2 linked regions of the Homo sapiens genome follow. Changing the gene in region 1 together with any one later gene gives a genetic interaction. Each region holds a gene or a part of one and is shown on either strand. Other genes may lie near its edges. The genes, in order: LCK and IL21R.

Evidence for each region.
Region 2: changes in LCK (region 1) and IL21R together harm fitness more than expected from each alone (negative genetic interaction), as found in Homo sapiens cells (one study listed by BioGRID).

The regions. Positions count from the first base shown.
Region 1 is NC_000001.11:32,251,550-32,267,484, forward strand, and holds part of LCK (tyrosine-protein kinase Lck), read left to right. Parts: intron 1-15,935. UniProt on the Homo sapiens protein: Non-receptor tyrosine-protein kinase that plays an essential role in the selection and maturation of developing T-cells in the thymus and in the function of mature T-cells. Plays a key role in T-cell antigen receptor (TCR)-linked signal transduction pathways.
Region 2 is NC_000016.10:27,426,848-27,442,782, forward strand, and holds part of IL21R (interleukin-21 receptor isoform 1 precursor), read left to right. Parts: intron 1-423; exon of another isoform or gene 424-514; intron 515-3,208; coding exon of another isoform or gene 3,209-3,224; coding exon 3,225-3,273; intron 3,274-7,499; coding exon 7,500-7,602; intron 7,603-10,640; coding exon 10,641-10,840; intron 10,841-15,807; exon of another isoform or gene 15,808-15,935. UniProt on the Homo sapiens protein: This is a receptor for interleukin-21.

The sequences.
Region 1 (15,935 bases):
GCGAAGCTGGTGTCGCTTGCCTCTGTCGTGCTGTCCACCAGTGGCCCCACCTGACTGGGAGCGTGTTTCCTGGACACCAGGCACATGGACAGTCAGGTGTTAAAAAGGCTTCCAGAAACCACCAAGCCCAGTCCCTCAGGCCATGAGGATGAGGCTCCTGAGGCCCAGAGAGAACAAGGCACTCACTGCCCACGGTTTCTCAGCAAGGCAGTGGCAGGGCTGAGAGTGATGGCTGAGGCTGTGGCCACCCCGCCTGGAGCAGGGTGATGGACAGGCTGGACTCAGAGGACCCAGGAATCCTTCTGGTTTCTGGGGCAGACCCCAGTGACAAGAATCTCCTGAGAAAGAGAGAGAGAGAGAGAGAGAGAGAGAGAGAGAGAGAGAGAGACAGAGATCACCCAAGGCATCCAGATGGACATGCGAGGAGTGATTTTAGCCTCAGCGATCGAGGGAAGAATCTCCTGATGGGCGTGAACTGATATGTGTGGGGGTGTCCATCATCTGGGATGGAGCTCCAGGGTGGATGGACATATCTGATCTGAGTATGGGAAGTTGGAAGTGAAAGAGAATGATGGGAGAAAGGAAGAGGAAGTACTATTTTTATCCCAGACAGGGGTGCAGTTGGTCCTGGGTGAGGAAGCGCTGAACTTCCATCTGGAAAGTCACCATTCCTGCCCCTGCCAAGCGTCACAGCAGGATGTCCTCCCCTCGCCCCTGGCTCCCTCCCGCTTCAGCCCTGCCTGTGTAGGGCCAGTTGGTTTTGCTGATTCCTGCTTCAAACCCCAGGGAGGTGGAGAGAGACTGGGGAGGCATAGTTGCTACCTGCTCACCTCCTCACTTTTTAACTCTGAGCCTTAATTTTTTTGGGAAGTCCTCACTCAGCCAGATTTCCAGGTTTCCCCTGCTTCGTTGGAGTTTTTCTTGACACACACTTTCCGCCTAGTCAGCTGGTCCCAGCCTTTCTCCTGTCTACAGCTCCAAGTCCTGTAGCCTCTTGTGGGGGCTAGGGAACATGGTGGCTCTCCTCGCACTTCAGGGAGGGTCATTCACCCTGGACAGGCATGAGCAGTTCCTTCCACCCAGCCCTATGCTGACAGACGAATCAGACAGGGTCCCTTGCTCTTGGGCCCCAGGAACAGAGGCTCTTCTCAAAGAGAGAAGGGCCAAGTGGACAAGGGCCAAGAACAGGCTGAGCATTGGTTCAGAGGAGGGGAGAAGGTGTCTCTTAAGATCTGGAAAGCTTCCTGCAAGAGTCAAGACAGTTCTGAGAAGGAGAAAGACCCATTTTCAAGAGTGCGTAGGACATGAAGCCAAGGTCACTATCCCTGGATTCTGTTCCTTGGGTACCACGAGGGCAGAGACCTCAGAGCAAGACCAAAGGCCAGAGAGCCCACAGGTGTGGTGTGGAGCAGAGAATGTGCATTTCAGAGACAGGCCGACCCAGTCACAATTCCGCTGGACCATTTCCTTGAGCAAGTGGCTTCATCTCTCTCTCTGAGCTTCAGTTTACTTATCTGTAAAGAGGCAATAATCAAGCTGGGCACGGTGGCTCACACCTGTAATCCCAGCACTTTGGGAGGCTGAGGCGGGCAGATCATTTGAGGCCAGGAGCTTGAGACCAGGCTGGCCGACATGGTGAAACCCTGTCTTCGTTAAAAATGCAAAATTAGCCGAGCGTGGTGGCAGGTGCCTGTAATCCTAGCTACTCAGGGGGCTGAGGCAGAATTGCTTGAACCCGGGATGCACAGGTTGTAATGAGCAGAGATCGAGTCATTGCACTCCAGCCTAGGCAACAGAGCGAAACCCCATCTCAAACAAAAATGCCTCCCGGGTTCAAGTGATTCTCCTGCCTCAGCCTCCCAAGTGCTAGGATTAACAGGCGCGCCACCATGCCCAGCTAATTTTTGCATTTTTAGTAGAGATGGAGTTTCACTATATTGGCCAGGATGGTTTCGATCTCCTGACCTCGTGATCCGCCCACCTCGGCCCCCCAAAGTGCTGGGATTACAGGCATGAGCCACCGCACCTGGCCAGCACATAGTAGGTGTTTAAGGGAGGTGGGGCACTCCCTCCCCCTGCAAATGATGCACCAAAGGGAGGGCTGTCCACACCCAAATTATGCCCACTCAGCACCTTGGTGGGCCAGTGAACCACCCATTCCCTCACACTTGTGGTGTGGCTTTGCAAATCAGCCTGTTTCCTGTATACAGTGTGAGGAGTGTGAGAACTCAGGCAGGCTGGACTCTGAGCGGGGCCATGGGATCTACTTTAGAAGAGGGTCTCTCACGCAGCCACACACAGACACACACACACACACACACACACAAGCCAAAACACCATACATATCATGGGAAAATCTACGTGTACAGATGTGTTCAGAGGCAGGGCAGGGGCTACACATAAAACACAGACTACATCCTATAACTCCATGCACACACCCACGAGCTGATGGCTTCAAGGCCAAGCTCAATTCAGTGAAAGTAATTCTCAGTGGGGTGGGGTGGGGTAGGTGGTGAGGAGCAGGTGGGACCAAGGTACCATCCAGTAATGGGGCCTCTCACAATCAACCTCAGTGTTGATTTTAAAGTATCTGGAGCTAGGGGTTTGAGGCTGCAGTGAGCTGTGATCGCTCCACTGCACTCTGGCCTGGGTGACACAGCTAGATTCTGTCTCTAAAAAATAAACACGGCAGAGTGCAGTGGCTCACGCCTGTAATCCCAGCACTTTGGGAGGCCAAAGCAGGTGGATCACCTGAGGTCAGGAGTTCGAAACCAGCCTGGCCATCATGGTGAATCCCCATCTCCACTAAAAATACAAAAAATTAGCCAGGCATGGTGGTGCATGTCTGTAAACCTCCACCTCCCAGGTTCCAGTGATTCTCCTGCCTTAGCCTCCCCAGTAACTGGGATTACAGGCGTGTGCCACCATGTCTGGCTAAGTTTTGTGGGGTTTTTTTGGTTTGTTTGTTTTTTGTTTTTTTGAGACAGAGTTTTACTCTTGTTGCCCAGGATGGAGTGCAGTGGTGCGAGCTTGGCTCACTGCAACCTCCGTCTCCCTGGTTCAAGTGATTCTGCTGCCTCAGCCTCCCGAGTAGCTGGGATTACAGGCATGGACCACCACGCCCGGCTAATTTTGTGTTTTTAGTAGAGATGGGGTTTCTCCATGTTGGTCAGGCTGATCTTGAACTCCCGATCTCAGGTGATCCGCCTGCCTCAGCCTCCCAAAGTGCTGGGATTACAGGCATGAGCCACCTCGCCCGGCTGTTTTTGTTTCTAATTACAAAATTAGCACATTGCTGTTTTAAAAACACTCAAACAGGCCAGGCACAGTGGCTCGCACCTGTAATCCTAGCACTTTGGGGGGCCGTGATGGGAGGATCACATGGGCCCAGGAGTTTGAGACCTGCCTGGGCAACATAGGCAGACCCCATCTCTATTTAATTATTTAAAAAAAAAATAAAATTTAAAACTCAAACAGTAAGAGGCATATAAAGAAATACAAGAAATGCAGCCTCCTCCAATCCCACTTCTGGGATATGCCCATCGTGAAAAATTTGGTGTGTGTCCTTCCAGATTTTCCCATGTATGGCTGCTGAAAAACATGGAGGTTAAGTCTAGTCTCTGCAGGCTGGCAGACCGGGACTCACTTCACAACTCCACTGCTCATTTGTTTGTTATGAGGCCTCAGACAAATCATTTTACCTGGTTTGGGCCTCAGTCTTTGCATCTGTAAAATGGGGATAATAATAGCACTTCATAGGATTATTATGAGAATTACATGAAATAATGCAAATAAAGGCTTAGCACAGAGCTTATTTAAAAGAATCCCCTGTATACATATGTCAATGCAAATAGGCATATACTCTGCATTCTGTTCTGCAACTTGCTTGCCATGGTGTATGCGGGATGTCTTTCCGTGTCAATACATGTCAATACAAAATACCTCATCCTTTTAACTGTTTCACTAAACGTTAGCTTGGTAAATGGTTAACGGTGGTGATTTTGAAATGTTACTTCCTGGCAAGTGTTGCTGTCATGTGCGGCCATGTTGTCGGCAGTCACAGATATTATTGATCAGTGAGCTAACTACAAGCCTTATAGCCTCCTGTGAAAATGAAGTGACCCACCAGAGGGGCACCCACCTCTGTCACAGAGGGCAGGGCCAAATGCATGGGACGCTCTCTGTCTGCTTACTTCTGCATCCTCAGCTCTAGGTCAGAATCTGGCACATAGGAGGTACCCATTAAATTTATTTTTTTTTTTTTTTTTTTTGAGACAGTGTCTCAGTCTGTTGCCCCGGCTGGGGCACATGGTGTGATCATAGCTCACTGTAACTTCACACACCTGGGCTTGAGTGGTTCTCCCACCTCAGCTTCCTGAGTAGCCTAGGACTACAGATGTGTACCACCATGCCCAGCTAATTATAAAAAAATTCTTGGCCAGGCACAGTGGCTCATGCCTATAATCCCAATACTTTGGGAGGCTGAGGCAGGAAGATCTCTTGAGACTAGGCATTCAAGACTAGCCTGGGCAACATAGCAACACCCCGTCTCTATTAAAACATAATAATAACAATACAATTTATTTATTTATTTATTTAGTTATTTATAGATGGAGTCTTGCTCTGTCACCCAGGCTGGAGTGCAGTGGCACTATCTCAGCTCACTGCAACCTCTGTCTCCGGGTTCAAGCAATTCTCCTGCCTCAGCTTCCCAAGTAGCTGGGACTATAGGCACATGCCACCAAGCCCGGCTAACTTTTGTATTTTTAGTAGAAATGGGGTTTCTACTAAACTCCCAACACTTTGGGAGGGTGAGGTGGGTGCATCATCTGAGGTCAGGAGTTTGAAACCAGCCTGGCCAACATGGTGAAACCCTGTCTCTACTAAAAATACAACAAATTAGCCAGGCGTGGTGGCAGGCGCCTGTAATCCCAGTTACTTGGGAGGCTGAGACAGGAGAATTGCTTGAACTCGGGAAGTGGAGGTTGCAGTGAACCGAGATCGTGCCATTGCACTCCAGCCTGGGCAACAAGAGCAAAACTCTGTCTTAAAAAAAAAAAGTGTGTGGAGATAAGATCTCACTATTTTGCCCAAGCTGCACTCACACTATGTATGGTCTCAAGCAATCGTCCTACCTCACCCATTACATTTTTGTCAATAGGCCAGCTCCTTTAATCCACAAGCAGCAGCCTAAGCCCAAAGTTCTCTCTTGCAGTGTGGCATTTCCTAAAATATGACCTGTACACCACTCAGGTGTGTAAGTGATTTTAGGGGATAATGGATGACCATTTACGAATGTTAATTTATGTGTTTATTTTAGTGTGCGCTGTTGTTTCACTTCTATTTATGTCTCATGATTCTGGTTTTCCATTTATGGTAGTAAAGTTTCCATTTTAGGTACATATATCAAACGTGAAAAGGTAGCCCGTGGAAGTGCCAAAAATCATGAAGGAAAATGAAAATGATCAATCATTTTAGCCTGAAAGATGTTTAAGGCCAGTGTCTATGTAGCAAGCACTATGTTAAGCATTTTATTATATGAGATCATCTATATATCACGTATAATGCTCACCACAGCCAGCCTTAGATGCAAGTCTTATTTTTGTCATCATTTTGCTGATGAAGGAACTGAGGGAAGTGCAGAGGTTTAGTAAGCTGCCCAACAACCTTCTGCCAGTAAGTCTTGTTTTTTTTTTTTTTGTTTTTTTTGTTTTTTTGAGACAAGGTCTTGCTCTGTCGCCTAGGCTGGAGCGTAGTGGCCCAATCTTGGCTAACTGTAGCCTTGACCTCCCCAATCTCAGGTGATCCTCTCACCTCAGCCTCCCAAGTAGCTGGGACCACAAGCATGGGACACAAAGTCCGGCTAATTTTTGTATTTTTTTTGTACCGACGGGGTTTTGCCATGTTGCCCAGGCTGGTCTCAAACTCCTGGGCTCACGTATCTGTCTGCCCACCTTAGCCTCCCAAAGTGCTGGGATTATAGGTGTGAACCACCACGCCTGGTGCCCTTCTGCCAGCAAGTGATTGGGAGAACCTGGATTGAATTTGGGTTGCCATGGCATGGACATGGTGAACTGAGCTTCCAGAGCTGCCAGACTCCCAGAAACGTTTATAAAGCAGTGTGGATTGCCAAGCTGTAAGTAAGGCTCCATCCTAATAAAACTGTCCATGATACAAAAAGCACACCAAAGTACCCAAGGGAGCGGACTCAGTAAAAGGGATTATCAGGTATATTCACGTTACTGGTTGGGGGACTTCTACTAAAATACCAATTAGAATAATTGCTCTATATCCCTTATTTATAGCGATACTTGACTAGCAGAATCAGTTCTATGTTCAAGACACTCCCAATTTGTGAAAATAAATCCATTTTGTTTGCATCCAAAATAATGCTTTTTTTTTTGTTCTCTCTGTGTCGAGAGGCTACAGAGTTCATTCAAAAAAGGTATTAAGCCAGGTGTGGTGGCTTGCACCTATAATCACAGCATTTTGGGAGGCCAAAGCAAGGGGACTGCTTGAGCCCAGGAGCTCAAGACCAGCCTGGGGAACATAGGCAGACCCCGTCTCTACAAAAAATAAAAAAATTAACTGGGCTTGGTGGTGTGTACCTGTGGTCCCAGCTACTCAGGAGGCTGAGGTGGGAGGATCACTTGAGCCCAGGTGGTTGAGGCTGCAGTGAGCCATGATCATGCCACCGCACTCCAGCCTGGGCAACAGAGTGAGATCCCATCTCTAAAGGAAAAAAAAAAAAAAGAGAGAGAGCGGAATTAAAGCCAGGTGCAGTGGCTCCTGCCTGTAATCCCAGCTATTCGGGAGGCTGAGGTGGGAGGATTACTTGAGGCCAGAAGTTTCAGGTTGCAGTGAGCTACAATCATGTGCTGTACTACTCCAGCCTGGGTGACAGAGTGAGATGTGAGACTCCATCTCTTTAAAAAAAAAAAAAAAAACCAGGCTGGGCGCAGTGGCTCACACCTGTAATCCCAGCACTTTGGGAGGCGGAGGCAGGTGGATCACAACATCAGAAGTTCGAGACCAGCCTGACCAACATAGTGAAACTAAAATTAGTTTCTACTAAAAAACACGTCTCTACTAAAAATACAAAAAATTAGCTAGGCATGGTGGCGGGTGCCTGTAATCCCAGCTACTCGGGAGGCTGAGGCAGGAGAATCGCTTGAACCTGGGAGGTGGAGGTTGCAGTGAGCTGAGATCACGTCACTGCACTCCAGCCTGGGCAACAGTGCGAGACTCCGTCTCAAAAAAAAAAAAAAAAAAAACCCAGCCTGTGTGACGTGGTGAGACCCTGTCCCTACTAAAAATACAAAAATTATCCAGGCGTGGTGTTGCCCACCCATAGTGCCAGCTACTCAGGAGGCTGAGGTAGGAGGATCACCTGAGCTATGGGAGGTCGAGGCTGCAGTGAGCCATGATTGTGTCACTGCACTCCAGTCTGGGCCACAGAGTGAGATACCATCTCAAAAAAAAAAAAAGTATTATGTATTTAAACAAATATGAAAAAGGAGGTAGCCCAGGACACATCCCTGATTTACCCACTAGAAATTAATTACTGACGGGGCACGGTAGCCCATGCCTGTAATCCCAGCACTTTAAGGGGCTGAGGCAGTGGATTGCTTAAGCTCAGGAGTTTGAGACTAGCCTGAGCAACATGGCAAAACCCTGTCTCTACAAAAATTAAAAAAATACAAAAATTACCCGGGCCCTCTCATTCACAGCTTCTCAGGTAAAAAAAAAAAAAGAAAAAGAAAAAGAAAAAAAAAATAGCTGGAGGCTGGGTGCGGTGGCTCATGCCACACCTGTAATCCCACACTTTGGGAGGCCAATGCAGGCAGATCACTTGAGGCCAAGAGTTCTAGACTACCCTGGCCAACATGGTGAAACCCCATCTCTACTAAAAATACAAACATTAGCCAGGTGTGGTGGCACACGCCTGTAGTCCCAGCTCCTCGGGAGGCTGAGGTAGGATAATTGCTTGAACCTGGGAGGCAGAGGTTGCAGTGAGCCGAGATTGCACCACTGCACTCCAGCCTGGGCGATAGAGTGAGACTTCATCTAAAAAAATAAAAATAATAATAATAATAATAATGATAATAATAATAGCCAGGCGTGGTGGCACATGCCTGTTGTCCCAGTTACTCAGGAGGCTGAGGTGGGAGGATTGCTTGAGCCCGGGAGGTCGAGGCTTCAGTGAGCTGTGATTTTGCCACTGCACTCCAGTGGCACAAGAGAGCAAGAGAGCAAGAGGGCAAGACCCTGTCTCAAAATAAAATAAAATAAAGAAAGAAATTATTTGCCATGCCTGCTAGCCCTGATTCTTGATATTGCTTGATATTGTCATGAGGGTTCTATGTGGGCATGAATAGCTAAGGCTCTTTATTGAACATGGGCAGCTTTGTCATTAATCAAGTCTGGGTCGGGGCAAAGGCGAAGAAAATGTTTTAAATGATTCATTTTTTTTTAATTTTATTTTTATTTTTATTTTATTTTATTTTATTTTTGAGACAGAGTCTTGCTCTGTCGCCACGCTGGAGTGCAGTCCCGGGTTTAAGCAATTCTCCTGCCTCAGCCTTCCGAGTAGCTGGGACTACAGGTGTGCACCACCACGTTCAGCTAATTTTTTGTATTTTTAGTAGAGATGAGGTTTCGCCATGTTGGCCAGAATGGTCTCGATCTCTTGACCTCATGATCCACCCACCTCAGCCTCCCAAAGTGTTGGGGTTACAGGTGTGAACCACTGCGCCTGGCCTTTTATTTTTATTTTTACAGAGACAAAGTCTCACTATGTTGCCCAGGCTGGTCTTGAACTTCTGAGCTCAAGTGATTTTCCCATCTCGGCCCTAGGATTACAGGCGTGAGCCTCCAGCCCTGGCTATTCTAAATGATTTCTGACAGATTTTGCCATGAGGTGGTCCAGAGTACAACAATGGTCTGCAGTAGAATAGTCTGCTTGTTCTTTTTTCTTTTTTACTTTTTGTGCTCTACATGTTCAGAGAAACTGAACTAAAGAAATGATCCCTAAAGGAAGTATAGTCTTGTCTGCTGTTTTTTGTGTTGCTTTGTTTGTTTTGTTTTGTTTGAGAGAGGTTCTTGCTCTTTCCCCCAGGCTAGAGTACAGTGGTATGATATTGGCTCACTGCAACCTCAACCTCCTGGGCTCAGCGATCCTCCTACCTTAACCTCCTGAGTAGCTAGGACTACAGGCGTGCACCACCACACCTGGTTAATTTTTGTATTTTTTGTAGAGATGAGTTCTCACCATGTTGCCCAGGTTGGTCTTGAACTCCTGGCCTCGAGTGATCCTTCCACTTTGGCCTTCCAAAATGTTGAGATTACTGGCGTGAGCCATTGCATCCGACCACCTGCCTGTTCTTGATGTAAAGCATTGGCCCAAGAAACTCAGCCACGAAGCTGGCACACATTTTGGACAAAATGTTCAATAAATCAATAGGTCTATAGTTGGAGGAGAAAAAATGTTAACTTAAAAATTTTTTTTAATTTAATTTAATTAATTTTTTCTTTTTTTGAGACAGGGTCCCCTGTCGCCCAGACTGGTGTGCAGTGGTATAATCACGGCTCACTGCAGCCTTGACTTCCTGGGCTCAGTGATCCTCCCACTTCAGCCTCCTGGGTAGCTAGGACTACAGGCAAATGCCATCACGCCATCATGCTTGGCTAATTTTTTTTTTTTTTTTTTTTTTTTTGAGACAGAGTCTCACTCCATGGACCAGGCTGGAGTGCAGTGGCGTGATGTCCACTCACTGCAACCTCCGCTTCCCCAGTTCAAGAGATTCTCCTGCTGGCCGGGCATGGTGGTGGCTCAAGCCTGTAATCCCAGCACTTTGGGAGGCCGAGGTGGGCGGATCACGAAGTCAGGAGTTCAAGACCAGCCTAGCCAACATAGTGAAACCCCGTCTCTACTAAAAATACAAAAATTAGCTGGGCCTGGTGGAACGTGACTGTAATCCCAGCTACTTGGGAGGCTGAGGCAGGATAATCACTTGAACCTGGGAGTTGGAGGTTGCAGTGAGCCGAGATCGTGCCACTGCTCCCTAGCCTGGGCGACACAGTGAGACTCTGTCCTCTGTCTCAAAAAAAAAAAAAAAAAAAGGGCCAGGTGTGGTGGCTTACACCTGTAATCTCAGCACTTTGGAGGCCGAGGTGGGCAGATCATGAGGTCAGGAGTTTAAGACCAGCCTGACCAACATGGTGAAACCCCGTCTCTACTAAAAATACAAAAATTAGCCGGGCATACTAGGCGCATGCCTCCAATCCCAGCTACTCCGGAGGCTGAGGCAGGAGAATCGCTTGAACCTGGGAGGCAGAGGTTGCAGTGAACCGAGATCACACCATTGCACTCCAGCCTGGGCAACAGAACTAGACTCTGTCAGAAAAAAAAAAAAAAAAAAAAAAAGAGATTCTCCTGCCTCAGCCTCCCAAGTAGCTCAAGTAGCTGGGACTACAGTCACGTGCCACCACACCCAGATAATCTTTGTATTTTTAGTAGAGATGGGGTTTCACCATGTTGGCCAGGCTGGTCTCAAAATCCAGACCTCAAGTGATTCACCTGCCTCGGCCTCCCAAAGTGCTGGGGTTACAGGTGTGAGCCACGGCCCCCGGTAGCCGGACGCCGGCCACTAATTATATAGCTGAGCATGGTCGGGTGCCGTGGCTCACACCTGTAATCCCAGCACTTTGGGAAGCCGAGGCAGGTGAATCACTTGAGGACTGGATTTTGAGACCAGCCTGGCCAACATGGTGAAACCCCATCTCTGCTAAAAATACAAAAATCAGCTGGGTGTGGTGGTGCGTGCCTATAATCCCAGCTACTTGGGAGGCTGTGGCAGGAGAATCTCTTTTTCTTTTCTTTTTTTTTTTTTTGATGGAGTCTAGTTCTGTCACCCAGGCTTGAGTGCAATGGCGCGATCTCGGCTCACTGCAACCTCTGTCTCCTGGGTTCAAGCGATTCTCCTGCCTCAGCCTCCTGAGTAGCTGGGATTACAAGCATGCGCCTAGTACACCTGGCTAATTTTTGTATTTTTAGTAGAGACGGGGTTTCACCATGTTGGTCAGGCTGCTCTCGAACTCCTGGGCTCAAGGAGTCCTACTGCCTCAGCCTCCCAAAGTGCTGGGATTACAGGCGTGAGTCACCATGCCCAGACTCCTTCTGGTCTTAGTTTGATAAAGATTGCTGAGTAGCCAACATGATCTAACCAGGTTAATAAATGAGGTCAGTAAAAAGAAAATCAAAATTAAAGCTTAATATAAATTTCTCATTGTCTGAAAGAAAGAAGTGGAGGAAGGGAGAAAAAAAAAAAAAAAAAAACAGATGAAAGGAATCCCCAGGGCTCCCAGAACCAGCAATGAGGGCAGATTCTGGGGTGAATGAAACAGGACATTCTTTTCTCCCAATTTAGGAATCCAAGGTCACGAGTAAGAATTTCATAGATTCGAGGCTGCCTCTGACTAGGGCATGTAATGTTCTCAGTCAAACTTAAGGCTGCCCGTGGTCCACAGAACATTTTGTGATGATTATAAAAAGGCCACAGGCCAGGTCTGGTGACTCATGCCTGTCATCCCAGCACTTTGGGAAGCGGAGGTGGGCAGGCCACTTGAGGTTGGGAGTTCGAGACCAACCTGGCCAACATGGTGAAACCCTGTCTCTACTAAAAATAATAAAAATTAGCGGGCATGGTGGTGCATGCCTGTAATCTCAGCTACTTGGGAGGCTCAAACAGGAGAAATTGCTTGAACCCAGGATGTGGAGGTTGCAGTCAGCTGCGATTGTGCCACTGCACTCCAGCCTGGGGGACAGAGGAAGACTCCGTCTCAAAATAAATAAAATAAATAAATAAATAAATAAATAAATAAATAAATAAATAAATAAAAATTAGACTGGGCATGGTGGCCCATGCCTGCCATCCCAACACTTTCGGAGTCTGAGGTGGGAGGACTGCTTGAGCCCATGAGTTTGAGACCAGCCTGGGCAACATGGTGAAACCTTGTCACTGCAAAAAAGTAAAAATAAAAGGCTGGGCATGGTGGCTTATGCCTGTAATCCCAGCACTTTGGGAGGCCAAGGTGGCAGGTTAGTAATCCCAGCACTTTGGGAGGCCAAGGTGGCAGGTTACTTGAGCCCAGGAGTTCAAGACCAGACTGGCCAACATGGTGAAACCCCATCATTACAAAAAACACAAAAATTAGTCAGGCTTGGTGGCATGGGCCTGCAGTCCCCACTACTCAGGAGGCTGAGGTAAGAGGATCCCTTGAGCACAGGAGGCAGGAGTTTGCAGTGAGCTGAGACAGTGCCACTGCACTGCACTCCAGCCTGTGCGACAGAGCAAGACCCTGTTTAAAAAAAAAAAAAGAAGAAGACCGGAAGGATGGGGTATACCCACATTTTGTATAAACAGATGTATGCCTATATGACTTCACAATTACATAGGGACGGTCGCTGCTATTCATAGTCTCATTCTGTTATATATCCCTCTGCACACACAGACTCCTGCAAACCCACAGATATGCACCCATAAGCACAGGGCTCACTGCATATGTTTTCATATGCACAGACTTGCATTCAACAGGCAGGTAAATATATACCCAGAAACGTGCATTCCAGGTAGAGGGGGGATTGTCTTGAAGAGAAAAGCCTTTGTTAACAGCACAGTGGTCAAATTTTTGATGGGAAATGGACCCTACCCTGTCAGACCTGCCTTCCTGCCTCACATTCTCCTAGACCTCTCAGCCCTCCCCCTCCACCCTTAGACTTTCCAGGGAGTGAAAAGTAGAGGAGAGGATCTTGATAAAGGATGTAGGAGCCAAGCCAGGCATATGCCAGCAATCCCAGCTATTTGGGAGGCTGAGGTGGGAGAAGCGCTTGAGCCCAGGAGTTAGAGACCAGCCTGGGCAACGTAGTGAGACCTCGTCTAAAAAAAAAAGGATGTAAGGTTTTGATATGAGTTTTGCATCTGCCAGGAACCCTCAGTGTATTATTGGGACAATCACTGAACCTCTCCTTTTCCCCAGTTTTAAAATGAGGCTGATGAACTGTATTTGTGTTTCCTAAACTCTTGTGAAGACAAAGTGTCTTTTACCATTCCCTGTTCTACACTCCCTCTTCCCCACATGGATCTCATGATTTTAAAGTTTTTACCTACTAAGCTACCTCATTTAGATGCAAATTTTCTTATTTTCAAGTTAAAAAAATTTTTCTTTTAATAGAGAAAGGGTCTCACCACGTTGCCCAGGCTGGTCTCAAACTCCGGGGCTCAATCGATCCTCTCTCCTCAGCCTCCCAAAGTGCTGGGATTACAGGTGTGAGTCACTGCACCTGGCCTCAAGTTTACATTTTAATCAAAGATTTGGCTGGGCACAGTGGCTCTCGCTTGTAATCTCAGCACTTTGGGAGGCCGAGGCAGGTGGATCACCTGAGGTCAGGAGTTCAAGACCAGCTTGGGCAACATGGTGAAACCTCATCTCTACTAAAAATAGAGAGATTAGCTGGGCGTGGCGGCACGTGCCTGTAATCCCAGCTGCTCGGGAGGCTGAGGCACGGAGGTTGCAGTGAGCCAAGATTGCGCCACTGCACTCCAGCCTGGGTGACAGAGTGAGACTTTGTCTCAAAAAAAAAAAAAAATGTAATCAGCGATTTAATTAAGTATGCAATGAAGAAATAAATAATACAATTTGTCAAAACAAGAAACAAAGTATAGTGGAATTTCCTTTCAGATTTTTGAAATATTAAAATAACCTAAAGGCCTCCCCGGCACTAGCCTGGGACTTCCTGGGAGCATGTAAACTTCAGGCTGGGAGCCTCTGACTACAAACATTTCTGGCATTGCCAGATCCTATGGACTTACGATTGCTGCCAGGCCCTATCCTCCAAAGCTCACATGCTTATAGAGGGCAGGAACTGCCACCTGTAGCTGGGGGGCCATAGAGGAAACAGTAGAGGCCAGATACCCTGCAAAGCTAGAGTTCCTCTGATCTTAATTTAACATAGGCTGACTTTTTCTCACTTTTTGCCCAGTCTTAAGTCGGGGATTTTCTGGCCCAGATTCAGTCCAGAATCTAGGACCTGCCTTGCATGCTTTCCTGGATCCTAGCCCAAGGCCTTGTGATTCCTTTTCCCTCCCCACCTGACCCCAGCCTGGACCAGGTACCAGCTTCCAGCCCCATGATCTCCAACCTAGATTCCTTCTGCTTCTTCTACTGGCCTTTTCTCACTGTTGCACCATAGTTTATCTCTTCTCCTTCTCCTCCTCCTTCTTCTTCCTCTTCTTTTTTTCCTTTATATAGAGACTGAGTCTTGCTACGTTGCCCAGGCTGGTCTGAAACTCTTGGCAATTCTCCTGCCTTGGTTTCCCAAAGGGATTACAGACATGAGCTACAGCACCCGGCCTTGTTTTGAGACAGGGTGTTGCTCTCTTGCTCTGTTATCCAGGCTGGAGTGCAGTGGCGTGTTCACGGCTCACTGCCGCCTCAACCTCCCAGGCTCAAGTGATCCTCCCCACTCAGCCTCCTGAGTAGCTAGGACTACAGGGGCGCACCACCATGCCCTGCTAATTTTCAGATTTTTTTTGTAGAGATAAGGTCTCACTGTGTTACCCAGGCACTGGTCTCTAATTCCTGGGCTCAAGAGATCCTCCTGGCCGGGCACGGTGGCTCACGCCTGTGATCCCAGAACTTTGGGAGGCTGAGGCGGGCAAATCACAAGGTCAGGAGATCAAGACCATCCTGGCTAACATGGTGAAACCCCGTCTCTACTAAAAATACAAAAAAAAAAAAATAGCCGGGCACAGTGGCGGGCGCCGGTAGTTCCAGCTACTCGGGAGGCTGAGGCAGGAGAAGGGCGTGAACCCAGGAGGCAGAGCTTGCAGTGAATGAGTCGTGATCACGCCACTGCACTCCAGCCTGGGCAACAGAGCGAGACTCTGTCTCAAAAAAAAAAAAAAAAAAGAGAGATCCTCCTGCCTCAGCCTCCAAAAGGGCTGAGATTATAGGCCTGAGCTACTACGCCCTTTCTTCCTCCTCCTCCTCCTCCGCCACCACCACCTCCTCTCCTCCTTCACCTCCTCCTCCTCTTCCTCCTCCCCCTCCTCATCCCTCTCCTCCCCCTCCCCTTCCCCCTCCTCCCCATCCCCTTCCCCCTCCTCCCCCTCCCCTTCCCCCTCCTCCCCCTCCTCTTCCCCCTCCTCCCCTCCCCCTCCCCTTCCCCCTCCTCCCCCTCCTCTTCCCCCTCCTCCCCCTCCCCCTCCCCTTCCCCCTCCCTTTCTTTCTCCTCCTTCTTCTTCTTTCCCATCTCTCCCTTCCTCCTATACATTCCCTCTTCTTAACCTCAAACTTCTACAATCTTTCTCTTGCCTTTTTCTAAAGGCTCCAAGAATGTCAAGCCTGGCAGGGACCTTACTGGTCTAAGTCCACATTCCATCTGATGTTGGTATTCTCTTTACAACACAACCAACTTGTGGTTTCCTAAGGCTCATACGACTATCACAAACAACAGGATGCTCACTACCTCACAAAACAGCTCAGCTTATCTGAGACCAGTTCCAGGTTGCTGTTAGTCCTTTACTGGGGGCTCTTGTTGCTAATTACTCTCAGGCTATAATAGTCAAAAAGTCATTTGCAGTCACAGATGGGTGCACTCTGGTCTAGCAGGATTTCCCAAATGTCCACCTCCCCCCAGGACTCCTAACAGTAGGGGAAAGAGTGAATACGTACCCTTTTCCTGGAAAGTTTCTTGATTTGATTTAAAATTCCATGCACATTTTGCATTTTCCTCCATAATAGGTCATGTTTGTTTAACTTACATGAATAAGGTCAGGAAACACTCATGCTCTGGAAAAATGCACACCATGACATGACTTCCGGTACCCATGGGAGGCTGAGTATCTCAGTTTAAGAAACAGGAGTCGAGCTGG
Region 2 (15,935 bases), on another chromosome or scaffold:
GGCAAGTGACAGAAATAGAATTCAACATGATTAAGCAACATAGGTGGTTTTTGGCTCATGGGAATGAGAAATCCACAGGGTGGACATCAGATATGGCTGGATCCAGGACCTCCCATGATGCCATGGGGACTCCTGACCTGTATTTCTCAGTATGGCTGTCATTTTCAAGGAGGCTGTCTCTAAGAGGTGACAAAGATGGCTACAAGCTCTGAGAAGATACCAAAAAAAGTGTCAGTTTTCTAGAGTTCTAGAAAAAAAATCTCAGGACTGCTTTCACTGGCCTTGCCTGGGTTGACATCCATCCCTGATGCAATCACTGTGGTCAGACAGATGGGGTGTTTTGATTGGCCAAGCCTGGGTCAGGAGCCCACTTTGTGGAGCATGGGGTGGAGTCAGCCTCAGGCAAACCACTAGAGGCAGCTCAGATAGAGGAGCTCTTTGGGAAGAGACGCCGGGCAGGCAGAAGCAGCAGGTACCCCCTCCACATCCCTAGGGCTCTGTGATGTAGGCAGAGGTAAGAAATTAGGAGGGATGAGGAGTTTTTTGTTTGTCTGTTTGTTTTTTTAAAGACAGGGTCTCACTCTTTCATTCAGGCTGGAGTGCAATAGTGCAATCATGGCTCACTGCAGCCTGGACCTCCGGCACTCAAGTGATCCTCCTTCCTCAGTCTCCCGAATAGCTGGGACCACAGGCACACAGCACCCGGCTAACTTATTTTTACTTCTATTTTTATTTTTGGTAGAGACAAGGTCTTGCTATGTTGGTCAAGCTGGAGATGAGGAATATTGAATCTGGGCAAAGGAGTTTGCACTTTTTGCTGTGCTGTGGTCAAGATAAAACCATCAGGGAGTGACGGGGACAGAGCTATGTCAGGACTCGCACCGTGGCTGGGGTGATGGATGTGGACAGAATAGTGAGGGGGCAGACACAGACTCCCCCTCCTGCGATCAGAGGCCACATCTTCAAAGTGTGATAACAGGACCTCTGCAGGGGTTGGAATCACACAGGATTCATATTCCTAAAAGCAGGTTGAAACTGCATCTACCTCAACATTATTTTATTTGAGTAGTGATGTTATTGCTTAGGATGATGCTGGAGTTAAATTTTTAAGTGTGCTTATCTATAGAAAATATATTAAAATATGTATTAAAATAAACAACAGTGCACACAATATACAAATATGGCCAAAATTTTGGATATGAGATATTTTGGCAACTCTTGGCTAGATCATTCTGAGACCCCCTCTGTTTCTGAGGCTCTACCTTCTCCATCAATTACAGCTGTTGTTTGAGTGTTTATGTGATGGGGGCCATCTGCAGGGTTTTATGCAAATCACCTCCTTGAATTCTCACAAGCCTGGAAGCAGGCCTTGCTGTTTCCACTTTACAAGGCTCAGAGAGGGCAAGGGACTGGCCCGGAGCCACACAGCTGGTCATCTGAACCTTCCTGGCCCCCCAGCCTGTGCCCTGCCCCAGGGTTCTTTGATGGCTCTGTGAGGGAGGTCAGAGGGAACTATGGATGGGGCCAGAGTAGGATCTTTGGGAACCCCGGCACAGAGGAGGAGGATCTTCCCCTTGTGGAGTCAGGGATGGCGTCTGGAGAAAGCCATGCCTGTGACTTGGGTCCTGCATGGGGCATCCCTCTTAGGTTTAGCTTTAGCTCCATTCTTGTCTATAGGGGCTGGTCTGGGAGGGGCTCCTGAGTCTGGGCAGGTGGACCACTGCCCTCTGGCTGGCACTTCCTCAAACAGACACAGAGCTGGTGGGTGAAACAGACAAGTCCCAGGAGAAGCCTGGCATCGCCAGACTGGTGGGGCATTCCTCTGCCCAAGACAGTAGAGGGCACTCTTTCTGGATAAACTCACTCTGCTCCCCAAAGAGGTTCCTTCTCCATCCTGGCCCAAATTAGGAGGTCAGGTTGTCTCTGTTTGGTCAGGCCTGGATTTCCTAGCATGCTCCCGAGTGGGCTAATCTGGGCTTTGTGATGGAGTAAGGAGCCTCATTATTGGGCTAACCTTATCTTAAGTATTCAGCAGTGGTTAACTTTGTGGGTTAACTTTGGATTTATTATTCAGTAAGAAGCCAATTTATTGATGGCTGGGTGCAGTGGCTCATGCCTGTAATTCCAGCACTTTGAGAGGCTGAGGTGGGTGGATCACCTGTGGCCAGGAGTTCGAGACCAGCCTAGTCCACATGGCAAAACCCTGTCTCTACTAAAAATACAAAAATTAGCCAGGCGTGGTGGCGGCCACCTGTATTCCCAGCTACTTGGGAAGCTGAGGCAGGAGAATCGCTTGAACCTGGGAGGTAGAGGTTGCAGTGAGCCAAGATCGGGCCACTGCACTCCAGCCTGGGCGATAGAGTGAGACTTTGTCTAAAAAATAAACATAAAAAAGCCAATTTACTGGCTTTTTTTTACAACATGGATGTTTATAGGAAGGAAGATCCAAAATTGCTCCTCAGCAGATCCCCCTTTCCAAACTAGTTTTTTCTCCTTTTCTCTCTCCCTTCCTCTCTTTTTCCCTCCCTCTTTCTTTGTTAGATAGATAAATACACAAGTTTAATTTCACACACAATGCTACATCAATAGGCTCAGCAAGGGCAAAATAGTCAGCAGTCTCCTCCCTCTTTAAATTCACCTTGTGCTGGGCGTGGTGACTCATGCCTGTCATCCCAGCACTTTGAGAGGCCGAGGTAGGAGGATCATGTGATCCCAGGAGTTTGAGACCAGCCTGGGCAACATAGCAAGATGCCGTCTCTACAAAAATGTTTTAAAAATTAGCCAGGCGTGGTGGCACGTGCCTTTGGTCCCAGCTACTCGGGAGGCTGATGCAGGAGGATCGCTTGAGCCCAGGAGGTTGAGGCTGCAGTGAGCCGTGATTGCGCCATTGCACTCCAGCCTGGGCAACAGAACATGACCCCATCTCTAAAAATATTAAAATAAAATAATAAAACAAATTCACTTTGCATTTGTGACGTGATGGGGCGGGGGCAGGAAGAAGGTGGGAGAAGGGATTCTTGGGGTGAATCTGCCATTTCTAAGAGGTGGGAGTTCTTGGGGTCATCCACAGGCCCCTCGGGATCTTGCATTTTTCTTAAGACAGTTCCAAGAATCAGGGGCAAGTCTGCCTGGGAAGAGACAGGATGAGGGGGAGGCCGGGGGAGCCCTGAGCCCGCCTGGCTCACCCTCCACTGTACGTCTCTTGCAGGCCCGTGGGAGTCAGCATGCCGCGTGGCTGGGCCGCCCCCTTGCTCCTGCTGCTGCTCCAGGGAGGTAAGTGGCTGCCCCGTGGTCTGCGGGTGGGGAGGGCCCCCATCACAGAGCTGAGCCAGGGCCGGGCTGGCTTTCTGGGCTCAAAAACACGGCTAGAGTCCACAGATTCAGAAAAGATGACATCCATGCCCTTGAGGCTGACACGAGTCCAGTAGCCGGCTCTCCACTAATCAGAATCCATCCACCAAAGGGCTCCATGAAACAGAAGCGGTAGACATGAGTCTCAGGTGGCCCAGCCCACAGGCTTGTGTCTTCGGGTGTCACTGGGGGGATGAAAGGCTTCGTCCTTCATTTCCCCTGACCTCTGCCTTGGCTGGCTCCCAACTCTCTGAGTGAGGAAGTTCTGCCTTCCATCTAACCTCAGTTTCTCCTTATGTAATGACTCTCCTTGGAAATGTTTTTCAACAATTGCTGCACCGGGTGCGGTGGCTCCTACTGGAATCCCAGCCCTTTGGGAGGCTGAGGAGGGTAGGTCGCTTGAGCTCAGGATCTCAAGACCAGCCTGGGCAACATGGTGAAGCCCTGTCTCTACAAAAGAAAAAAAATTAGCCAGGCATAGGAGCGCATGCTTGTAGTCTCAGCTTTTTGTGGGGCTGAGGCGGGAGGATTGCTTGAGCCTGGGAGGTGGAGGTTACAGTGAGTCAAGGTGACAACTGTACTCCAGCCTGGGCAACAGAGCGAGACCCTGTCTCAAAACAACAGCAACAACAACAACAATAAACAAACAAAAAAATCGCTAGATTCTTAGCAGGCACTGGTGGTCCCTGGGCTGGGGACAGGAGGAAGAGCCAAAAGGAGACTGAACCTTGGTAGGCAGCCCCCAGAGGACCAGATGTTGTGGTTAGAGGGGGTGACGTTAGAAAGCAGAACTGGGAAGACCAGGAGTCCGACTGAAAGGGCACTGCCTAGGACTAAGAGATCCTGGAGGGCTTCCTGGAGGAGGGGGCCATGAGGAGGCGGGATCCAGCACAGACTTGTGTGGAGGCCGGCCTAGGGGCAGGGGAGGAACTCAACAGCTGCTCTGCTGACTCATGGGCATTTTTCTCTGGTTTTTACCAGAAGACCCAGGACCTCAAATAGCTCCTTCAGGAAACAGATGTCAAGCTTTGATTTTCCCTTTCTGAGTGGCAAGCATCCTCATCTTGGTTCTAAAAAGCCTTTGGGTCACCCACCATGGCTCCACATCTGGCGGGTGCAGATAACAAGCCCTGGCTGCATGCAAAGCTCGGAGCGTCATCCCATTCCACTGTCCCAACAGCCCCACAAGGCGCATGTTGTAATGACGCCCAGTTTTTTGGCTGAGGAGGCTCAGAGAGGCTAAGAGACAGGTGCATGGCCACACTACCCGGAAGAGGCAGAGCTGGGATCAGTTTGCTCTTGGGGTCTGTCTTAGTCTGTCTGTGCTGCTGTAACTGAATACGTGAGACTGGGTAATTTATAAATAATAGACATTTACTGCTCGCAGTTCTGGAGGCTGGGAAGTCCAAGATCAAGGCACCAGCAGTAGCTTTGATTCCGGTGAGGGGCCCATCTTTGCTTTTTTTTTTTGAGACTGAGCCTTGCTTTCTCACACAGGCTGGAGTGCAATGGTGCAATCTTGGCTCACTGCAACCTCTGCCTCCCAGGTTCAAGCAATTCTCATGCCTCAGCCTCCCGAGCAGCTGGGATAACAGGCACATGCCATGGCTAATTTTCGTATTTTTAGTAGAGTTGGGGTTTCACCATGTTGGCCAGGATGGTCTTGAACTCCTGACCTCAAATGATCCACCCGCCTCGGCCTCCCAAAAGTGCTGGGATTACCGCACCCAGCCCCCATCTTTGCCTTTAAGATGCCACATTGAACGCTGCACCACCCCCAGAGGGGACACACGCTGCATCCTCACATGGCAGAAGGGCAAAAAGGGTCTGAATGTTGGGTTCGTCCAGCCCTCTTATAGCATCAATAATTCATTCAGGGGGGCTCTGCCCCCATGACTTAATCATCTCCTAGAGTCCCCACCTTTTAATATGATCACATTGGCAACTGAGTTTCTGGGGAGACACAGACGTCAAACCGTAGCACGGCCTTCACCATGCTGTGCTGCTATCTGTGGAGTGATAGCCATGTGCGGGCAGCATGCAGGCACAGGCATGATCTCATCTCAACACCTCAACAGCCTCTAGGGCAAGCAGTGTCTCCGGCTTACACATGGGGAGGAGAAGCAGTTTTGAGTCACATGTTTGCAGTCACAGAGCTACTTTGTGCACCTCTCACTGCCTCCTGCACGCTTTCATAACCCCAGACATGGGATGGCCCTGGGGCTCTCTGCCCTGTGGCTGGGGTACTGACAGGGCATTTTCCCACCCTCTCATCCCTGGTGCCACCTCCCTGCCACTCAGGGGCTGCCGTTGCCTCCCCAAGTTTGGAGACAAACCCTGTCCCTTGGTAGCTTTGAGCCTGGCTAGGAATGGTAGCTCCTCTCCAAATTCCCAGAGCTCTGAGAAAGAACCACGAGGATACGAACTCAGAGATGACACAGCTACTTAGAGGCTCTGTGTTGAGGTTTTGCCAAAATCAGTCCTGTTTTCTCCACCAAGTGCTGGAACTAGCTCCTTTTCACTCCACCGACAAGTTCTGTGTGTCTCCCTGAGGAAAGCCCCCTCCTAGAGCAAGATTTACTTCCATGACTCAGATCCCTTGGTAGCCACTGCCTCGAGAGAAGTTGAGAAGCATTCCGAGGTCACACCTAGGGGAGGGAGTGCTGTGATCCATTAGCAATATCTGTCATGTGTGCGGCTATGAAAAACTAGCACAGACTAGGTATTTCCTTCCCTGGGTGAGTGTCTCAGCAGCCCAGACCAAGAGAGACAAGAGGCATGGTCTAGTCTTGGAGCCTCAGTGTTCTCATCTCTACAATGAACTAAAGGATATTTCCAGACACAGTATTCTTGGCTCCGCATATAGGTTCTGTCCTAGAGTGAGACCCAGGAAGGGAATCTACCACCACCACCTCAGGGGTCTTCATTAGTCCAGGGAAAATAGGAAAAAGCCACCAAAAATGAACCTACTTAAAAAGGGGAACAAGGTCAGGCACGATGGCTCATTCTTACAATCCCAGCACTTTGGGAGGCTGAGGCAGGTGGATCGCTTGAGCTCAGGAGATTGAGACCAGCCTGGGCAACATGGTGAAACCCTGTCTCTACAAAAACACAAAAATTATCCAGGCATGGTGGTGCACAACTGTAGTCTCAGCTACTCAGGAAGTTGAAGTGGGAGGACTGCTTGAGCCCAGGAGGTGGAGGCTGCAGTGAGCTGAGATCGCACCACTGCATTCCAGCCTGGGCAACAGAGCAAGAGATCCTATCTCAAAAAGAGGTGAGCGGTACAAGTTTCTAGTAAATAGCAGCAAAAAATAGTGGAATTGGCACTCGAATATACAAAACAAAGCTACAAATTATTCCATTGATTTTGTCCACATTTAACAAAATGTAGATGATGATTGCACCCCTGTTTTAGAACACAGCGAAACAATTAATGTTTGGGGAGCAGGATGGAAAGGTGTTAAATCTTCCAACAAAATTGCCTCATAGGGCAATACCTAGAAGACTTCTTGGTGGCGGTGGCATTTTTGGCCGCAGGATCACGCAGACCTTTATGCAAAAGTGTCCGAGGGCTTTTTAATTCTCTCACGGTTTCCTACTCCTTGAAGCACTTCCTGAATCTCCGAGAGTGGGTGTCCTGTGGATCCAACTTCTGTAGAGCCGAGTCCTCTTCCTTGTCAGGGTTTTGGGACATTTTCAGCATAGCTGTCCTTGACTCTATGAGGTCCTGACCCTCTTGGGGTGTGTGCGTGTGCTCTGGCTGGGTTCCTACCACATCTGGGGCATTTAGGATATTGCCATTCTGAGTGGGAGCTTGGCCAGGAGGGACACAGACCTGGTGGCCGGGCGCAGGGCTCTGGAGGAGGGTGCTGAGCTGGGGACCAGCTAGTTTTATATTATTTGCCATCACATGCATCCTGTCTTCATAGCCAGCCTTGAAACATTGGTGCTCAAACAAGGAATTTCCAGGTGGTGAGGCCCCCTGGGTGCCAGGCCTACATCTAAGCAGCTCCTGAGTCCTCATATTTGTCCCGGCCTGGGGACCCCTGCACCCATTCTTCCTCCAGCCCTCGAGGGGATGGAGAGGAAGCTCTGCAGTCCCAAGCCACCCCCCACCAAGGCCTCTCTCCCCACTGACCCTCCAGGCTGGGGCTGCCCCGACCTCGTCTGCTACACCGATTACCTCCAGACGGTCATCTGCATCCTGGAAATGTGGAACCTCCACCCCAGCACGCTCACCCTTACCTGGTAAGTAGCCGGGCCTCACCAGTCCCCGGGGATGCAATTCAGGGTGCCTGCTCAGTGATTCCCCCAGGAGGACACTGTGCACTGAGGACCACTGTGTCCGCCTTTCAGACAACCACTCAGGGCTCACAGGACTTGAAAAGTCAGGAGCCCGCAGGGTTGGTCTATCCACCAGCTTCAAAGGCCACTCTCTCACCCACACAGGTCGGCCATGGTTTTGAGACCCCGGGATGGCTGGTTTCCCGCATGATTTTTCAAGCACTTAGGTACCAGGCCCCCAACTACACGCTTCCCATGAATGGTCACCCCCAACCCTCACAATGATTACTCCCATTTTACAGATGAGGACATTGAGGTTCAGAGAGGTTAAGCAACTTGCCTAAGGTCACACAGCCAGTGAATGCTGGAGCTGGGATTCAAATTCAGACCGCCCAACTCCAAAGTCCATGGGTCCCTTTTAGACCCTATGCAGCTCAGGATAAAGAAGAGCTTCTGTTATCCATCAGCTCATTCATTCATTCAAAACCATTTATAGGCCAGGTGCAGTGGCTCATGTTTCTAACCCCAGCACTTTGGGAGGCCAAGGAAGGAGGATCACTTGAGCCCAGGAGTTTGAGACCAGCCTGGGCAACATCACAAAACCCTGTCTCTACAAAAAATAAATCAGTCGGGCGTGGTGGCACAATCCTGTAATCCCAGCTACTTGAGAGTCTAAGGCAGGGGGACCAAGCTCAGGAGGTCGAGGCTGCAGTGAGCTATGATCACGCCACTGCACTCCAGCCTGGGCAAAAAAGCAAGATCCCAACTCAAAAACAAAACAAAACAAAACAAAACATGTATTAAGTTCCTGCCAGACACTGTTGCAGGCACTGGGGATTCAGCAGAGCAAGACTGACCAGGCCCCAGATGCCTTGGAACTGACGTACCACGGTGGGGCGGAGGCTGGGGGAGACAGACACACAAAACAACCAACAAGGTGCTTTCTCTTTTTTATTTTATTTTATTTTATTTTATTTTATTTTTTTGAGACAGGGTCTTGCTCTGTTGCCCAGGCTGGAGTGCAGTGGTGGGATCAGAACTCACTGTAGCCTTGACCTCCTGGGCTCAAGCAATCCCTCCACCTAAGCCTCCTGAGTAGCTGGGACTACAGGCATGCATCACCATACCTGGATAATTTTTGTAGTTTTTGTAAAGACAGGGTTTTGCCATGTTACCCAGGCTGGATTCAAACTCCTGGGCTCAAGCAATCTGCCCACCTCAGCCTCCCAAAGTGCTGGGATTACAGGTGTGAGCCACCATGCCAGGCCCAAACAGGACACTTTCTTTCTTTCTTTTTTTTGGAGACGGAGTCTCACTCTGTTGCCCAGGCTGGAGTGCGGTGGCATGATCTCGGCTCACTGCAACCTCCACCTCCTGGGTTCAAGCAATTCTCCTGCCTCAACCTCCCAAGTATCTGGGATTGCATCCAGGTGTGCACCACCATGCCTGGCTAATTTTTGTATTTTAAGTAGAGACAGGGTTTTGTCATGTTAGCCCACCTGGTCTCGAACTCCTGGCCTCAAGTGATCCGCCCACTGTACCCGCCTTTCAGACAACCACTCAGGGCTCACAGGACTTGAAAAGTCAGGAGCCCGCAGGGTTGGTCTATCCACCAGCTTCAAAGACCACTCTCTCGCCCACACAGGTCGCCCATGGTTTTGAGACCCCGGGATGGCCGGTCTGCCGCATGGCCAGCCTCCCAAAGTGTTGGGATTACAGGCATAAGCCACCGTGTTCTGCCCCAAACAGGATACTTTCTAATAATACTGGGTGCTATATCAAGGACAGAACACTGGACCTCAGGTAAAGGGACCACAACTGCTAGTGAGAAGGAGGAAGCCAGGGAGCTGGGCAGAGGGCACTGCCAGTGCAAAGGCCCTGTGGGAGAAGAGCTGGTGCGTTTGAGGAATAGGGAGGAGGTCAGTGTGGCTGGAGTGGAGTGAGGCAGGGTGAGGGGGAATAAGGAGCAAGTTCAGGCTGGGAGGCTTGGAGAGCATTTATTCAGCAGGAACTTGTATTCCAGCAAATTTGGCAGAGAACTCAGTCCACACATCCCTACTGGGCCTAGAGAGTGGTCATGTTCAGATCCTGAACATCTAGGTAGGGAAATTAATATCCGGTAAACTACTATACATACTTCAAAACCCATCATTTTTGTCCAGTGGGAGTTAAAAAGCCACAGCATTTTCCCTAATCCCATCCCACCAACTTTCCCAGAAGTCCACCCAGAGGAGGAGATGAGGTTCATTTAGCTCTTTTCCTGGCCCTCAGCACAGGCTATTATTAGATATTCAGTGGATTTGGGGACTGGGCGAGGTGGCTCAGTCCTGTAATCCCAGCACTTTGGGAGGCCAAGGCTGGCAGATCACTTGAGCCCAGGAGTTTGAGACCAGCCTAAGCAACATGGTGGGACCCCATCTCTACAAAAAATACAAAAAGTTAGCTGGGCATGGTGGTGCATGCATGTAGTCCCAGGTACTGAGGAGGCTGAGGTGGGAGGATCAGCTGAGCCTGGGAAGGTCGAGGCTGCAGTAAGCCATGATCACACTACTATACTCCAGCCTGGGGCCAGAGTGAGACCCTGTCTCAAAAAAATGGATGTTGGACAGAAAGGAGAGAAGGAAACCCAAAATGCCTAGCGCCCTTCCTGCAGGACAGCCATCTGGTTGTTGGGACCAACAGGGACAGATTTAGGCTTAGTCCAAGCAAGAATGGCCCAAATTTCCAAAATTGAGAGCTGCTGCCCTAAATGAGGTAGTGAGTTCCTGGCCCCTGGGAGGTGTGCAAGCTGAGCCCGGACACAATTCATTGAGGATGCTGTAGGGGAGGTGATACCTTCCCTGGGAAAAGGTTGGTTGGACCAGGTGACCACCCCCCAGCCCTGCCTCAAATCCCTCCCAGCCCTGAGAGTCTGGGCTTCTGCCCTGGCCCTGAGCACTGAGCCCACCACCATCCCCCCTGCCCCTGGCTTCCAGCCATGACCGGCTGCTTTGTCCTTGAAGGCAAGACCAGTATGAAGAGCTGAAGGACGAGGCCACCTCCTGCAGCCTCCACAGGTCGGCCCACAATGCCACGCATGCCACCTACACCTGCCACATGGATGTATTCCACTTCATGGCCGACGACATTTTCAGTGTCAACATCACAGACCAGTCTGGCAACTACTCCCAGGAGTGTGGCAGCTTTCTCCTGGCTGAGAGCAGTGAGTATCCTGGGACCCCAGGCTTAGGGTGGCACTCAATCTTAGCTCACCGCAGCCCTGACCTCTCTGGGCTCAGGTGATCCTCCCACCTCAGCCTCCCGTGTAGCTGGGACAACAGGTGTACACCACTACACCCAGCTAATTTTTGTATTTTTAGTAGAGACGGGGATCTTGCCATGTTGCCCAGGCCAGTCTCGAACTCCTGGGCTCCAGCGATCCACTTGCCTTGGCCTCCCAAAGTGCTAGGATTATAGGTAGGGGCTGGGTCCCCTACTCCCTGCCCTCTGGGCCAGCTCTCCTCCTTCCATCAGATCTGACCTGGCCTATGTCCTCACTACACCTTAGAGTTCTGTTTTGAGTTGCGCTATTTTTTACTAAAGTGTGAAAGGTTGATAATAGGTTTGAGAGGTATTGAAGGAGCTAGGCTGGGACCCGGGACTTCTGGGTTCGTGTTCCGGCTCAGCTCTGCCCATCTGTGTGACCATGGATGAGGCATACCTACCTCTGGGACAGCTTCCCTATTTGTAGAGCAAATGTCCTTTTAACCCTGACTTTCTGGGATCCTGACCCCATAATGAGGCGAATGGACGACACTGAGTTACAGAAAAAAAAAACCCTCTTGGGTTTTTTCCCCTTCATAAGCTCCAGGGAGGCCTGGAATTTCCCTCCAGGCTGGAGGTAGAGGGGGGTCCCAGGGGCAGGAGGGCCTGGTTGGTGGGAGCAGTTTTATCTGTGAGTTCAGAATTAGGGCAGGTGGCAGGGCGAGGTGGCTCATGCCTGTAATTCCAACACTTTGGAAGGCTGAGGCAGGAGGATTGCTTGAACCTGGGGCTTTAAGACCAACCTGGGCAATATAGCGAGACCTCATCTCAAAACACAAAACAAGAACCAGGGCAGGGGCCAGGCACTGTGGCTCACGCCTCTAATCCCAGCACTTTGGGAAGCTGAGGCAGGTGGATCGTTTGAGGTCAGGTGTTCGAGACCAGCCTGGGCAACATGGTGAAACCCCATCTCTACTAAAAATACAAAAAAATTTGCCGGGCGTGGTGGCACACGCCCGTAATCCCGGCTACTCGGGAGGCTGAGGCAGGAGAATTGTTTGAACCTGGGAGACAGAGGTTGCAATGAGCCAAGATCATGCCACCGCACTCCAGCCTGGGCGTCAGAGTGAGACTCCGTCTCAAACAAAACAAAACAGAACTAGGCAGGGCATGGAAGGGCCTGGGAGGTGGCTTTGGCATGGTGTGTGTGTGTGTGTGTGTGTGTGTATGTGTGTACCCAAAGCGGCCCCAGAGGCAAACACAGGCTGCAAAGGGAGCCTGCCCTCAGGAAGGCCCCGCCCATGAGCTCGGGAGTTTCTGCCGCTAGATTCCCAGCAGAGGGGCTGGGGTATAAGAGGTGTCTGTGATTCACACTCTGGGGGTCCAGGTTTGCACCTCTTTGCTGAGTGGATGTCACACCACAGAGCGTGAGAGTGAAGCTTCACACACTCCCAGACACATGCACACTCACGCAAATTCCCAGGGTCACAGACTCACGCACACACAGACTCATAGATGCGCCCTCAAACTCACAGATGTCTCCCCAGCCCCAGCCTGCATGGCATGGACACAGAGGCCCACACTGCCTCTCTCTCTTGCTCTCTCTCACTCTCATACACACTCACACATACATACACACACACACACACACACACGTACACAATACACACACACTCACACATATACTCTCACATCACTCATACATGGGCACACACACGCACACACTCACACATGCATTCTCACACACGTGTAGACTCACACATGCACACACATATACACTTTCTCACACGTGTGCACACACGCACATATACACATACTCATACACTCTCACATCACACACGGGCACACATATGCACACACTCACACATGCATTCTCACACACGTGTACACTCATGCACAGACACACACATTACTCACGGGCACACATGCACACACTCACACATGCACAGACTCACAAGGGGACCCTCCTTGCCACTTGTCTTGCAGCGTGAATCCAAGCATTTCTCTCTGGCATTCCCTCCCTCCCTGCCAGGATCTGCAGCTAGCCTGGTCCCAGCTGGGGCAGGAAGTGATTTTCTAACCACCTCCCGCCGAGGGTCCCTTCCTCCTCCTGGGCCCTGGGCCTCGCTGGGCTGAGCAGCCCCTCTTCACGACCCCCAGGCTCTGCAAACATCTCCCGAGTACCCACGGGGCAGTTCTCAGTACCCTGGTGTCTTCTGGGACTCATCCTCACCCAGCCACACAGGGAAGCCGAGAGCCGGCCTCCACCTGCCCCGGGGAAGACAAAAGAGGGGTTAGAAACGATTTCAGTCAAAAACATCCCATTACTGGAACAGCAACAGCAACAACCCAGTGTTCACCATGGCATTCTGTAAAATGTGCACCTCTGTCACCTCGGGGCGTGGTGGGAGCCCTCAGTGCGGGTTTCAGGATCACAGGCAGCCTTAGAGCTCCTTTCTGGAGGCCTTGCAAGGTTCATTAGTTAATCTGACAAATATATATATATATATATATATATATAGAGAGAGAGAGAGAGAGAGAGAGAGAGAGAGCGAGCAAGCGCGCGCCAGGGTGTAGCTTTGTCCTCCAGCCTGGGGTGCAGTGGCACAACCATAGCTCATTGCAGCCTGGAACTCCTGGGCTCAAGCGATCCTCCCACTTCGGCCTCCTGAGTGGTTGGGACTACAGGTGCACATCACCATCCTGGCTAATTTTTAAATTTTTTGTAGAGCTGGGATCTTGCTGTGTTGTCCAGGCTGGTCTTGAACACCTGGCCTCAAGCAATCCTCCCACCTCAGCCTCCCAAAGTGCTGAGATTTTTGGCATGAGCCACCTTGCCCAGCCTAATTTGCCAAATATTTATTGAGGGCCTACTGTGCCCCAGGCTGTGTTCTAGGAGCTGTGGGCACAGACTGAACCTGGAGGACAAAACCTCTGCCCCAAGGAGCTAAGAGCCCAGTGAGGGAGGCACATAGTAAACAAAATCACAGGGTGAGAGGTGCAGAGTGTTAGATGGTGGCAGATTGAAAGTGAAGAAGGTGGCTGGGTGTGGTGGCTCACACCTGTAGTCCCAGCACTTTGGGAGGTTGAGGTGGGTGGATCACTTGAGGTCAGAAGATCAAGACCAGTCTGGCCAACATGGGGAAACTACTTCTCTACTAAAAATACAAAAATTAGCCAGTCATGGTGGTGCGCACCTATGGTCCCAGCTACTTGGGAGGCTGAGGCCGTGTAATCGCTTGGGCTTGGGAGGTGGAGACTGCAGTGAGCTGAGATCACGCCACTGCACTCCAGCCTGGGTGACAGAGATTCTGTCTCAAAAAAAAAAAAAAAAAAAAGAAAGAAGAGAAAAAAGAAAGGGAGGGAGGGAGGGAAGGAGGGAGAAAGGAAGGAAGGAAGGAGAACAAAAAAAGAAAAAGTGGAGAAGGTGAGGGCAGAGGCCTGCAACTCCTCTCTGACACTAATAGACACTTGTCACTCAGTTCCTCTGAAGTTACTGCCTTCTGCTAAATAGCTTCATCCCTTTGAACTTGAAGCCCCATGATATAGGAACTGAGCCCATTTTACAAGAGAGGAATTTAAGGCCCTTAACATATTGTGTTCTGCTCAAGTTCATGAAATGTCCTTCGAATGGAGCAAAAACAGAATGCCGGCTTTGACCTTCACCTGGAGGCCGCCCATGAAAGCTTGCTGTTATGGCTCAGAGCTCGGCTCTTGCACTTGCCAGGAGACGCTGAAAGATGAGGACCATCAGATTGGCCTCCCAGGGCCACTGTGGGGTGTCAAACTGCCCAGAGCAGGGCAGCCAGGCAGGCTCTGTGTAAATGGCAGCCCTCACCATTAGCATTCATGCTAAGAAGAGTCATCAACTGCTTGAAGTAGCTGGGGTTGAAAGAAAATGATACCATCATTTAGAACAGAAATGGAAAATGAATGGATTTGCCAGCACGTTGCTGAGAACATTTTTGGATGGGTTGCTAACTTTAAAACTTAATATAGGCCAGGTGCAGTGGCTTGTTCTTGCAATCCCAGGATTTTGGGAGGCTGAGGTGGGAGCATCACTTGAGGCCAGGAGTTTGAGACCAGCCTGGGCAAAGATAGTGAGACCCCATTTCTACAAAACAGACAAATAATTAGCCAAGTGTGGTCGCATCCACCTGTAGTCTCAGCTACTTGGGAGGCTGAAGTGGGAGGATGGCTTGAGCCCAGGAGGTTGAGGCTGCTAGTGAGCTATGATCGCACCACTGCACTCCAGCCTGGGCAACACAGTGAGATCCTGTCTCTAGGGGGAAAAAACCCTTGGAGATTTCACATGATAATTCCAGGGGTCTCCCGTTTCCCATTCTGCACCTCATATTGAAACTTGCCCTTCAGTGCATAGAAAGCAGGGTTTCAGATTTCATGTGTGTGCGTGTGCATTTGTGTGTGTGCATGCTGTGCGTGTGCATGTGTGTTGCATGTGTAGGCATGCGTTTGGGTGTGCATGTGTGGGCATGCATGTGTGTGGGTGTGCATGTGCACATGTGTTTGTGTATGCGTGTGTGTAGGCATGTGCGTGTGTGTTTCCCTAGAAAACTTAGAAAAGCTGACCACTCTGTGCTGCTGGGGCCATTCACTTTTAACTCTTTTATTTATTTATTTTTGTTCGTTTTTGAGATGGAGTCTCGCTCTGTCGCCCGGGCTGGAGTGCAGTGGCGCAATCTTGGCTCACTCCAAGCTCTGCCTCCCGGGTTCACGCCATTCTCCTGCCTCAGCCTCCCGAGTAGATGGGACTACAGGCGCCCGCCACCACGCCCGGCTAATTTTTGTATTTTTAGTAAAGATGGGGTTTCACCGTGTTAGCCAGGATGGTCTCGATCTCCTGACCTCGTGACCCACCTGCCTTGGCCTTCCAAAGTGCTGGGATTACAGGCATGAGCCACTGCACCCAGCCAGACTGTTTTATTTCGTCACAGTCCCTAAACCTGCTTCACTCCTCTCTGTGACCTGCCCGCCCCTGAGTTTGCAATCCTGATCAGGTCTAAATCTCCCAGGTCCCAGATGAATAAACTGAA